Linked DNA regions of Homo sapiens: region 1 is linked to region 2. The links come from fine-mapping of genetic effects on gene expression. A gene starts in region 2. The other region holds a variant in brackets. All regions are shown on one strand. Distances are from middle to middle.

Region 1 (5,383 bases), 77 kb before region 2:
TAAAATACATAAATTAGGGGTAGATTAAAGGTTACTCCTAAAATAATGTCGCTCTCATTTTCATGCCAAAAAGAAGTTGAAATAACTAGTGAGGAAGAAACAAAACATACCCTCTGTACACACAGGGGAGAGTGGCCTAAGTGTGAAGGGTTGTGTATCTTCAACCGTGTCATAGGGGAATAAAGTTACAAGTCATTGCTCAGGCCAAGATAACCAGGTATAGAGATATTGTGGCAGCTGGCCTTGGTTCTATAATATCTAGGTTTGAATGAATTAATTTTAGGAGCTTTTCCATCTTTGACATAATTTTTCAACATTTAAAGGATAGTATTATTTTATAATCAGAGAGGATACAACAAAGGGGGCTTCCAATATTGGTCCTATTTATTATAAATTATTAACCTATGTGGTAGATACATGGGTGTCTCTTTTATTCTTTATATCTTCTTTATATTTTAAAGACTCATTAATGAAACTTCTATAAAAAAGATCATCTTGTTTTAAACCCTGGTAGTTCCCTGCTTTGAGAAGCCCCAGGAAGAAACGCTGCAGGAAAGGCAGGCAAGCAGGATTAGAGTGAAATCATCTCTCCATTTAATCTTATCCTGTTCTGATGCCAACTAGAATCTTGACATTGACAAGAATAAAGAGGCACTTCACATTTCATGGTTTTTTTTTTTTTTTTTGAGACAGGGTCCCAGGCTGGAGTGCAGTGGCATGATCATGGCTCACTGCAACTTCGACTTCCTGGGCTCAGGTGATGCTCCCACCTCAGCCTCCTGAGTAGCTGGGACTATAGGTGCGTGTCACCACACCTGGCTAATTTTTAAAAAATTTTTAGTAGAGACAAGGTTTCACCATGTTGCCCAGGCTGGTCTTGAACACTTGCGCTCAAGCGATCTGCTCATCTTGGCCTCCCAAAGTGCTGTGATTACAGGTGGATGAGCCATCATGCCCAACCACATTTCAGTCCGATTTTATGAGGACTTAAAATAACAAAGACAAATTTGAATAGAATGTGTGTGTGTATGTGCCTTCAAAAGTTATATTTGAAATTTTTACTTAATATCAAGGCAAAGCTTCCAAATACCAGACACATTAAATCACTGAAGTAGACTAGTTAGCAGATAAAATAAAATACTATTGTTTCCTTGAAGACATGGAAGCCTTGTAATGCCACATGCACATGTAATAAGTATATAATCTAGCTAACATTTTATCACCTGGTGGCCGGTTTGAAAATTCTGGCAGTTTAGGGCCTGAGTTATCCAAGTTAATTCCTTGTTCTCCAGGCAACGGTGGCTGATCAGCCTCTTCCAGACCAGCTGGGCGAGTATCTGGGGTGCTAAAAAAAAAAAAAAAAAAAAAAGTGACATATTTTAGAATAAGTTGTATAGAAAATACACAAAACTAGCTTAACCCTTCCCCTATTTCTGAAGAACTAAAATGTTTGCATTACCATTATTCATCTCTCTCTAGTCTAGATAAAATATTAAATATTGGCATAAAAATAATCTGGCAATTTCATTAAATGTTAAAATCCATTTAATCTAACAGCACTGTATTTACTCAGAATGCTTTCCACAAATTCCTGGTGCAATAATTTTCATGTAATCACCCATTCCTTAGCTGTTTTAAGACCTGATCATAGGACTATCAATGTTACAAGGTACTGTTCCTGTGAAACCACACTATCTTCAATGTAGCGATCAAATTCAACTAGGGGGTCTGATTGTTTCTTTTTTGTGGATATAACAGTGGGGGCTCAATTCATAACACCTTGCAAAAGGTTGTATAGGTTGGCTGATGGTATTCAGAGAACAAAGAAAGATTGAGACCACCACCACAAAGATTTTGCTGCAGAATGAGAATTTGCAGACATCTCTATTTGCTTTGAGATGCCTTTGCTTTTACCTGGGTGTAGCTTAAAATTTTTAGTAAGGAAGAAAAAAATGAAGAAATTGTAGCTACTAACACCCACATTCTCAAAGAACAAGACTGGTCACGGGCCTCATTTTGTTTGTAATCTCAGTACTAATTGTACTTTTCTTTTCTATCTTTAGTTTCCCTTTGCCCTGATTTTGTTCACCCACTTTTAGGTAGTGTTTTGTCTCATTATACTCTGTACAGTTTCATAAGCCACAAAAATCCACTTTAAAAGCCTCCCAGCAAATGGAAATTTAGAACCTGAAGCAGATCGTCAGCACATCCAGACCTATAACAATTTGCTCCTTGTAAGACTTCTCTCTCACTTTAAATTACAGGCAAGAATTCAGTGGTAACCTTTACTTTCAGAAAATTGTAGAGATAAGAAATCTCAGATATCTGGTCCAGCCCCATCATGTTATGAATGAGAAAACTAAGGCCCAAAAAGGTGTATGAAACAGGCCCAAGATTCCACAGTGAAGTAGTGGTAGAGCTGGAAGCAGGTACTTTTCCTGTAAATCCACTGTCTCCCTTTCCTGGGAGTCCTGATGCTGTGTAAGGTCCCTTTCACAATTTGTAGACCTAAGTAACCAATTTCCCTAAGGGCTGGTGAAGATGGCAAAAAATACACACTAGAGGCAACTGAATAACCTTGCAATTTTACTCCCAGACTACCGAGAGAATAAAATATTTATTAAATAATTATTCCCATAGGTTGATGCTAGTAAAGAATTTAACTGAGAAAGAGCTATCAGAAAAATTAGATAATTAA[C/G]TTTGAATTCAGGAAAATATAGGTTATCATTAATAATACACCATGATTAGCTTTTAAAGCATAAGATTCAAGAAGAGGCAAGTGAGCATGATATAATACAGTACAAAGAATGTTGTGGGAAGGCTGGGATAAAGGTAGTTGGTTTAATTTTGAATATTTAAGCTGGTTGAAATAAAGTTTCTTGATTCTTTTTCTATAATTCTAACAATTTATTTCAATTAACCTGTTTTACATTCATTAGCCATTATTTCCTCATTTATTATTTTTTTATGATTAAAGGCACAAAATATAGCTCAGTGAATATTCCTTCTGGAAACATTTTATCAAACCCAGAAACACAAATTAATACTTAGCTTCAGGAAATGAAATATAAATTGTTAATTGCCTTTCCTGCTATGATCTTGCAAAATAACTCACCTGGAGAACGTTTACTGAAAGGGTAACTGATTTAAAAGGTCCAATCATCTTAGCGTGGGGTTTTAAGCTTCTAGGGATGATAAAGAGCCTTTAAAGGAAAGGCACCTGTGCAAAAAAACCATTTCTATTTGAGAGACAGCAGTAGTTTTAATTTCCAAAACACATTTGGCCTCTCTGGTTCCCCAATAGCCATCATAAGCCTAAAGTCAGTGCTTTGTGGAGTTGCCATATGGTAGCACTGGTTACTTTTCAGGCTCTGATTGCCAAAACCCCCCGACACTGTAAAATTAAGAGATATACCAGCCAATTGCAACATATGAATCTTGTTTGGATCCTTATTTGAACAAATTGTAAGAAAAAAATTTGAGATAATCAGGGAAGTTTGAACACTGGATATGAGAGTACTAAGGAAGTATTAGTTTTCTAGGTGTGCTAACAATATTGTGCGGGCATATTAAAAAGTGTCCTTATCTTTTAGAGACACACACTGAAATATTTACCCAGCGAATTTGCTTTGAAATACTCAAAAGGGTAATGGAAGAGAGTACAGATGAAGGCAAGACAGACTATGAGTTGATAATTATTGAAGCAGGGGGATTTCATTATACTATTCTAGTTTTATATTCTGTAAAATTTTCCATCAAAAAAGTTATCCACACAGAAAACAAATGAATAAAATTTGAGGCAAAACCATCACAACCTACTTTAGATCTTGCTGACTATTTTTCTTCTTCCGAGGGGGTTTCTTCTTCTTCGGTTTATTTGCGTTGGTATTATTTTGCTTATTGTTTACCCCAAAATGGCCTGCAGATATGTCACTCTGCAATAAGTTGACCAACAATGGGCTCGTTAGCGTGACATCCTTATTGACTGGGAAGCCTGGATTTTGACCACAGGACATCTGATTTCCATTGGGAGCTCCACTGAAAGGTGCATTGAAAGACATCCCATGGCCTGAGAAGTGGTTTCCCGAGGCACTGTTTCCCTGCATGGCCTGCACATGAGGGGGGACCATGTTGGTTTGTTGAATGCTAACATCAGGCATCATCTGAGATAAACTGACATCGTTATTTGCTGTAGTAGCAGGATCACCATGCTGCTGGGCCATGTGTGGGCTGGGCCCTGGTGGCCGCAGGACCTGTCCCTGAATGCCCATAACCTGAGATGGACTGTTGTTCACAGGCCCTTGCTGGGGCAGCATCTGTCCTGACATCTGTCCCGTAAACTGCACCATATTTCCTTGCATGTTTGGAGTTGGTCCCCTCATTATCTGGGCTGGTCCCGGCATGACATTGGACTGGTTCTGAGTGTTAAACTGCTGCTTATTCCCCTGCATTTGATTGGTCATAATCTGCTCTATCATTGGGTTCTGTTGGAGCAAAACCTGCCCCTGAGGCCCCATCATCTGGTTATGTGGCGCCATCATTTGTGGGCCCTGCTGGGAAAGCATCTGCTTGGGTGGGGTCATCCTTTGGGGCGAGGGCCCAAGATTTTGGCTCGGGGGGTTCACCATCATCTGGCCCTGTGGCATAAGCTGGGCCCTTGAAAGGATCATAGGGTTCTGAGGGTTCAAGGTTCCTTGTTGCTGGACCATCTGGCCCTGGGAGGGCACGATTTGCTGGTGCATGCCCATCAGCTGAGATGGTGGGCCCTGCTGGGGCTGGCCTTGCATGTTGCTGAGGTTCACTTGAGGAACCCCAGAAGTACCAGCCTGCTGATTGTTCATGTTGCCATGAATTCCCATGAGGCTGGGCTGCATCATATTTGGCGGCCCGTGGGACACCTGCATCTGGTTTTGAGGAGGACCAGCTCCTTGACCACCTTAAAAAAAAAAAAAGTCACAGTTTCAGAAATAAATATTTTTATCTTATTGGTATTAAGATACTCAAGTTACATTACTCAGAAAGACATCCATCACCCTTATATCCACTGACCAACATAAATATGCTGTTGACATACTTCCTGTGAGTTTTCTAAACTACAAAGATGTGGCTGTGGGATAACTGCTTACATTCCCAATGACCATATAATAGAGAAGGAGAAACAGTTTCTACATTCCCATATGGTATCTTAAAGATTTAACGTTTCAAAGATCAAGAAAGTTTACTTTCTTTCAGATTAAATAATGAGAAAGGCAGCATCTCACTGTTTTAAAATGACTTGTAGTGGCCAGGCTCGGGTGGTTCATGCCTGTAATCCCAGCACTTTGGGAGGCTGAGGCAGGCGGATTGCTTGAGCCTGGGAGGTGGAGGTTGAAGTGAGCCAAGA
Region 2 (5,383 bases):
GGGGTTCATAGACAGGAGTCTATAGATAGGACTTCAGTGGGGCTTGTGAACTTGGACAGGGAGAAAAAAATCTCTTTTACTAACTTTTAACTGAAAATTACCATTCTATTCAAATATGAGTGTAGGTAACATACCATTCTAGTATTAGCAGTTCTGTGACTCTGTAACAACAGAAATCTCAAATATCTTTATATCATACTACAATTGTTGCATATAATCTTGAAGTAGCCTTTATGCGCATCATGTCTTTGAAATTATAATTATCGGATCCATCACTAAATCTGATTTCTTAACGTGCTGATAAACAAGTATATGCATATTAGATTTGTATATTTTGGAAACTGTATTTTAATATAATTGGTGTTCCTTATAATTCAATGTACTTTATTTTATACAATTAAAAAATATTATTCTGAAAGGGGTCCATGGCACAGATAAGGTCAGGTCTTCCTGCATTAGAAAAACCCAGAATAGGCTGGGCGCGGTGGCTCACGCCTGTAATCCCAGCACTTTGGGAGGCTCAGGTGGGCAGATCACTTGAGCTCAGGATTTCAAGACCAGCCTGGGCAACATGTTGAAACCCCAACTCTACAAACAGAAAAAAAAGAAAAGAAAAGAAAAGAAAAACCCAGAACAAATGAATTGTGTTGCTGTATATACATATGGTATTGACAGTTTTATTTTATATATGCCCGCATAATATTTTTGTTCGCTAATTCTCTTTGATTATATGGGGCCCTGGACCTATTTTCCATGACTAATTTGCATATTTCCTTCAGAACTCTCCCATAGCCCATGCGAACTTTGAATTCTTCTCTAACATGATCCAACTTCAATTAATAAAATAGAGACTCTGGGTGTCTACAATTTTTCACTTTTCTTTTTTAGGATTTTGTGTTCCTTTGTGGTAAACACCTAGAAGAGAAGGAGCATCTCTCTTTTTTTTTTTTCTTTAGACAGTGTCTTGCTCTGTCGCCCAGGCAGGAATGTCATGGAATGACCATAGCATGGCTCATTGCAGCCTTGACCTCCCAGGCTCAAGCGATCCTCCCACCTCAGCCTCCTGAGTAGCTGGGACTACAAGTACAAGCCACATCAGGTGGCTAATTTTTTTTATTTCTTTTGTAGAGATGGGGTCTGCCAGCTCCTGGGCTCAAGAAATCCTCCCACCTTGGCCTCCCAAAGTGTTGGGATTACAGGCGTGAGCCACTGTGGCTGGCCGGAGCACCTCTTAAAACTCTAGAAAGTTAGAAGGTCTCAAAGATAACTTCTTTGCACAATTAGAGATGAACCAGGAAATACCAAATAACTGGCTGCCTATACTTTTTTGTATTCCCTTCAGCCTTTGTATTGCCACACTCATTACAGGAAGAAAACAAATTTAATAGTTATCTGGTATATACTGTTATGCTTCATTTCTTGTTGTTTTTGTTTGTTTGCTTTTAGTTTCATCACAAGAATGTTATGCTTCATTTCTTAACACCTTTCTCCCAGCTAGCAAATTCCTTTAAGGCAATGTGTTTAGTGAGGAAGCAGCCGACAATTTCTAGTACCCCTCTGCCACTAACTTGTAAGATCTTGAAAAGTCAACTTTACCTTTCTATGTTTCAGCTAAAATCACTACCTGATTTGAAATCTTTACTTGATCTCTCAGGCCTTTGTAGTTTTTATACATTCACTCTTCTTCACCATTTTACTGGCTTCAATAACGCCTTTCTGATGACCTCTCCAGGTGACTCTGCTCTTAAGCTGTGGGCTGTCCCCTTCCAGGGAAGACACCTTGGGTCACCGCCCCCAAACAGCCAGGTCCCTCCTTTTAAAGACACACACAACTCCCTAAGTTGATAAAGGTTCTCTCCTTCCTTGCCAACCAGTTCCACTCTCTGTGCCTCTTTTGCTGGCCAGCTCCTGCACCCAAACCTCAGTCTCCCTTTGTCCCCCTTTTCTCTCATCAAACACCTCCTTTTTCCTGTTGCTTCCCCCAAGAGGGGGTGGAGGATGCTTGGGACATAAGTCTTCAGAGCCTTGGGAGTTATACAGCTTTGCAATTCAGCCCCAGTACCCCAAGGACTGCCCCAATCTGAACCAGCGTCTGTACCCAAAGGGCCCTCATTCCTCATCAATCACCTCCTTCCCTCCCAGCAAAGAACTGCTCCAGCCCTGACAGCCTGAGCTTGGCCCCCATGCCTCCACCCCAATCCCCAGGTCCTACCTGCATTAGGGCTCTAACACCGCCTAAGGCCTAACCCAGTTCCACGTCCTGCCATCCTCTCAGCCCATAGACCCCAATCCCGGTTCCCTTCGGACCCAGTGTTCCTTCTCCGCGACCCTGACCACGACCCCACGACCGGCTCCCGCCTGTTCCCCAGGCCTGGAGCGCCACCCCGTGCAGACCCCGGCCAGCCCTGCACTCCCTCAGTGCACCGGCCCCCGCGCCCAGCACCCTCCCCACCCAGCCCGGCCGCCGCTCCCTCCAGCGCCCCCGCCCGCAGGCCTGGGGCCCGCTCCCCAACATGGCGACGGGGACACAAGCGCGGCGGGCGGGGCGGCTCCGGGCCGGGCCCGCTCTCAGACCGTGCCACTCGGTCGCCCGGCGCCATTTTTCCGCGCGGGCCCGGGCGGCGCCTCCTCCCCGCGAAGCCAGCCCGACAAGGACCGCGGACGCCCGGCGGGCCCACCCCTTACGGGCCCGCGCCGCCGTCCCCTCACCTGAGCGCGGCCCCGGCCCTCCCGGGCGGGCCTTGGAGCGCCGGCCCGGGCCGTGCGTGCCCGCCGCCCTCGGTGCGTCCGTCCGTCAGTCCTCGCGTGCGCCCGTCTGTCCCGCCGCCCGCGCCCGGCCGCCCGCAGCCCGACCCGGCAGGGCCTCACGGAGCCGGCGGGGAGGGGGATGGGCCGGACCGGGCCGGGGAGGGAGGGGGAGGGAGGGAGAGAGGGAGGGAGCGCGAGAGGGGGCGGGGCGGACTCGAGGGGCGGGGCATTGCCCACGTGACCAGACGTCCCCGGGAGCGCGAGGTGGAGCGCGCGCCAGCTCCCTTCGGTGCTGAGTGCTTAGTGCTGGGATCTCGTGGGTCTCTGTCGGCTTTCCAGGGCTATTCTCTCGCCAGTGAGTCCCACTTCGGAAGCACACATTGCACAGTCTTTTGCGAGCGCTCTGAGTATCCTTGGACATGGCAACTCCAAGCCTCAGTTTACCCATCTGAAATATGGGGAAAATCATAGTGCTTGTGAAGAGCAAATGGAGGTGGGCTTGGAAAGCACTTGTCACCGTGCCTGACACATACTGTCTAATAATAAGCTTAATGGGATATAGATAAAAGCTTTCATTATTATTTGCCTCTAAATCCCTCTCTTCTTTTTCCCATCATTACCTCCCTAGCAAGCTAAAATGCTCAGTAAATAGAATTATTGATCGAACGAGTGTGGCCCCTCCCCTCTTCCCAAACGTAGAAAGGCCTCCTCAGCACTGGACTTCATGTCTGTCATACAGGCCTGGATTCATATCTGGCTTTCACTCTTTTTTAAAAATTTTCTGTTTTTTCCCACACTACACTGATGTATTTTTTAAATTTTCGTAAGTACGTAGTAGGTGAATATATTTATGGGGTACATGAGATTTTGATACAGGCATGCGATGTGTAATCACATCATGGTAAATGGGGTATCTAGCAACTCAAGCATTTATCCTTTGTGTTACAAATAACCCAATTATACTCTAGTTATTTTAAAATGTACAAGTAAATTTTGTGTGTGTGTGGTTTTTTTTTTGTTTTTTGTTTTATTTTTGTTTTTTTGAGACGGAGTCTCACTCCGTCGCCCAGGCTGGAGTGCAGTGGCGCGATCTCAGCTCACTGCAACTTCCGCCTCCCTGGTTCAAGGGATTCGCCTGCCTCAGCCTCCTGAGTAGCTGGTACTACAGGCGCATGCCACCACGCCCAGCTAATTTTTGTATATTTTTTAAGTAGAGATGGGGTTTCACCATATTGGCCGGGCTGGTCAGGAACTCCTGACCTCATGATCCGCCCGCCTCTGCCCCTCAAAGTGCTGGGATTATAGGCGTGAGCCACCGCGCCCGGCCAATTGTTTTTTACTGTAGTCACCTTCTTGTGCTAGCAAATACTAGGTCTTATTCTTTCTAACTATTCTTTTGTACCCGTTAATCATTCCCACTTCCCACCTACCTCCCCATTAATCTTACCAGCCTCTGGTAACCCTCCTTCTATTCTCTATCTCCATGAGTTCAATTGTTTTAATTTTTCGCTCCTGGCCCGGCATGGTGGCTCACGCCTGTAATCCTAGCACTTTGGGAGGCCAAGATGGGCGGATCACCTGAGGTCAGGAGTTCAAGACCAGCCTGGCCAACATGGTGAAACCCTGTCTCTACTAAAATACAAAAGCTAGGTGGGCATGATGGCGGGTGCCTGTAATCCCAGCTACTCAGGAGGCTGAGACGGGAGAATCTCTTGAACCTGGGAGATGGTGGTTGCGGTGAGCCTAGCTCGCGCCACTGCACTCCAGCCTAGGTGGCTGAGTGAGACTCCGTCTCAAAAAAAAATAAAAAATAGTTAATTTTTTGCTCCCACAAATAAGTGAGAACATGTGAAGTTTGTCTTTCTGTGCCCGGCTTCTTTCACATAACATAATGACCTCCAGTTCCATCCATATTGTTGCAAATGACACGATCTCACTCTTTTTTAATGGCGGAATAGTATTCCATTGTGTATATGTACATTTTATTTATCCATTCATCTGTTGATGGACACTTAGGTTGCTTCCAAATCTTGGCTGTTGTGAACAGGGATGCAGTAAACATGAGAGTGCAGATCTCTTCCATACACTGATTTCCTTTCTTTCCGGTGTATACCTAAGAATGGGATTGCTGGATTGTATGGCAGCTCTCTTTGGCTTTCGCTCTTGATAGCTGTCCTTGCCTCTCTGAACTTGAGCATCTTCATCTGTAAAATGGGAGTTGGGGTCTGTTCTGAGCATCCCAGGAGATAGAGGATGAGCAGGTGGATTGTAAACTAATTAAACAAATCAGTCCTACTGATCCCATAGAAGAAAGGGAGTCAGGAACCCTTTCATTCCATCAATATTTATTGAGTACACACAGTGTGCTTGGACTGGTGTAGTAGATACCCACCATCTTTTCACATTACCCTGACCGCCCTCTAATCTATTCTCCACCCTGCTGTCAGAGTAATGTTTCTAATGATCAGAAATATGATCATGTCACTACTCTACTTAAAAGTATCTGTTGATGGCCAGGTGCAGTGGCTCACACCTGTAATCCCAACACTTTGGGAGGCTGAGGCAGGTGGATTGTTTGAGCCCAGGAGTTCAAGACCGGGCTGAGCAACATGGCAAACGCTGTCTCAACAAAAAA

The links. PIP is the estimated chance that this variant, and not a neighbour inherited with it, causes the effect. A credible set is the group of variants that fine-mapping cannot tell apart.
Region 1: its variant is the best candidate, but not a certain one, in a credible set for the expression of NCOA6 in whole blood (INTERVAL, PIP 0.57).

Annotation. Positions count from the first base shown.
Region 1 is chr20:34,745,584-34,750,966 of GRCh38, forward strand. NCOA6 (nuclear receptor coactivator 6) reads right to left here. Exons shown (of 15, transcript NM_014071.5): 9 at 3,820-4,936; 10 at 1,224-1,345. Among named protein-coding and RNA genes, the nearest start is that of TP53INP2, 44 kb to the left of the region's middle. The variant C/G (reference allele first, on the strand shown) is at 2,699.
Region 2 is chr20:34,822,763-34,828,145 of GRCh38, forward strand. NCOA6 (nuclear receptor coactivator 6) reads right to left here and starts at 2,889. Exons shown (of 15, transcript NM_014071.5): 1 at 2,710-2,889. RefSeq lists silencers at 2,356-2,795, 2,806-2,995.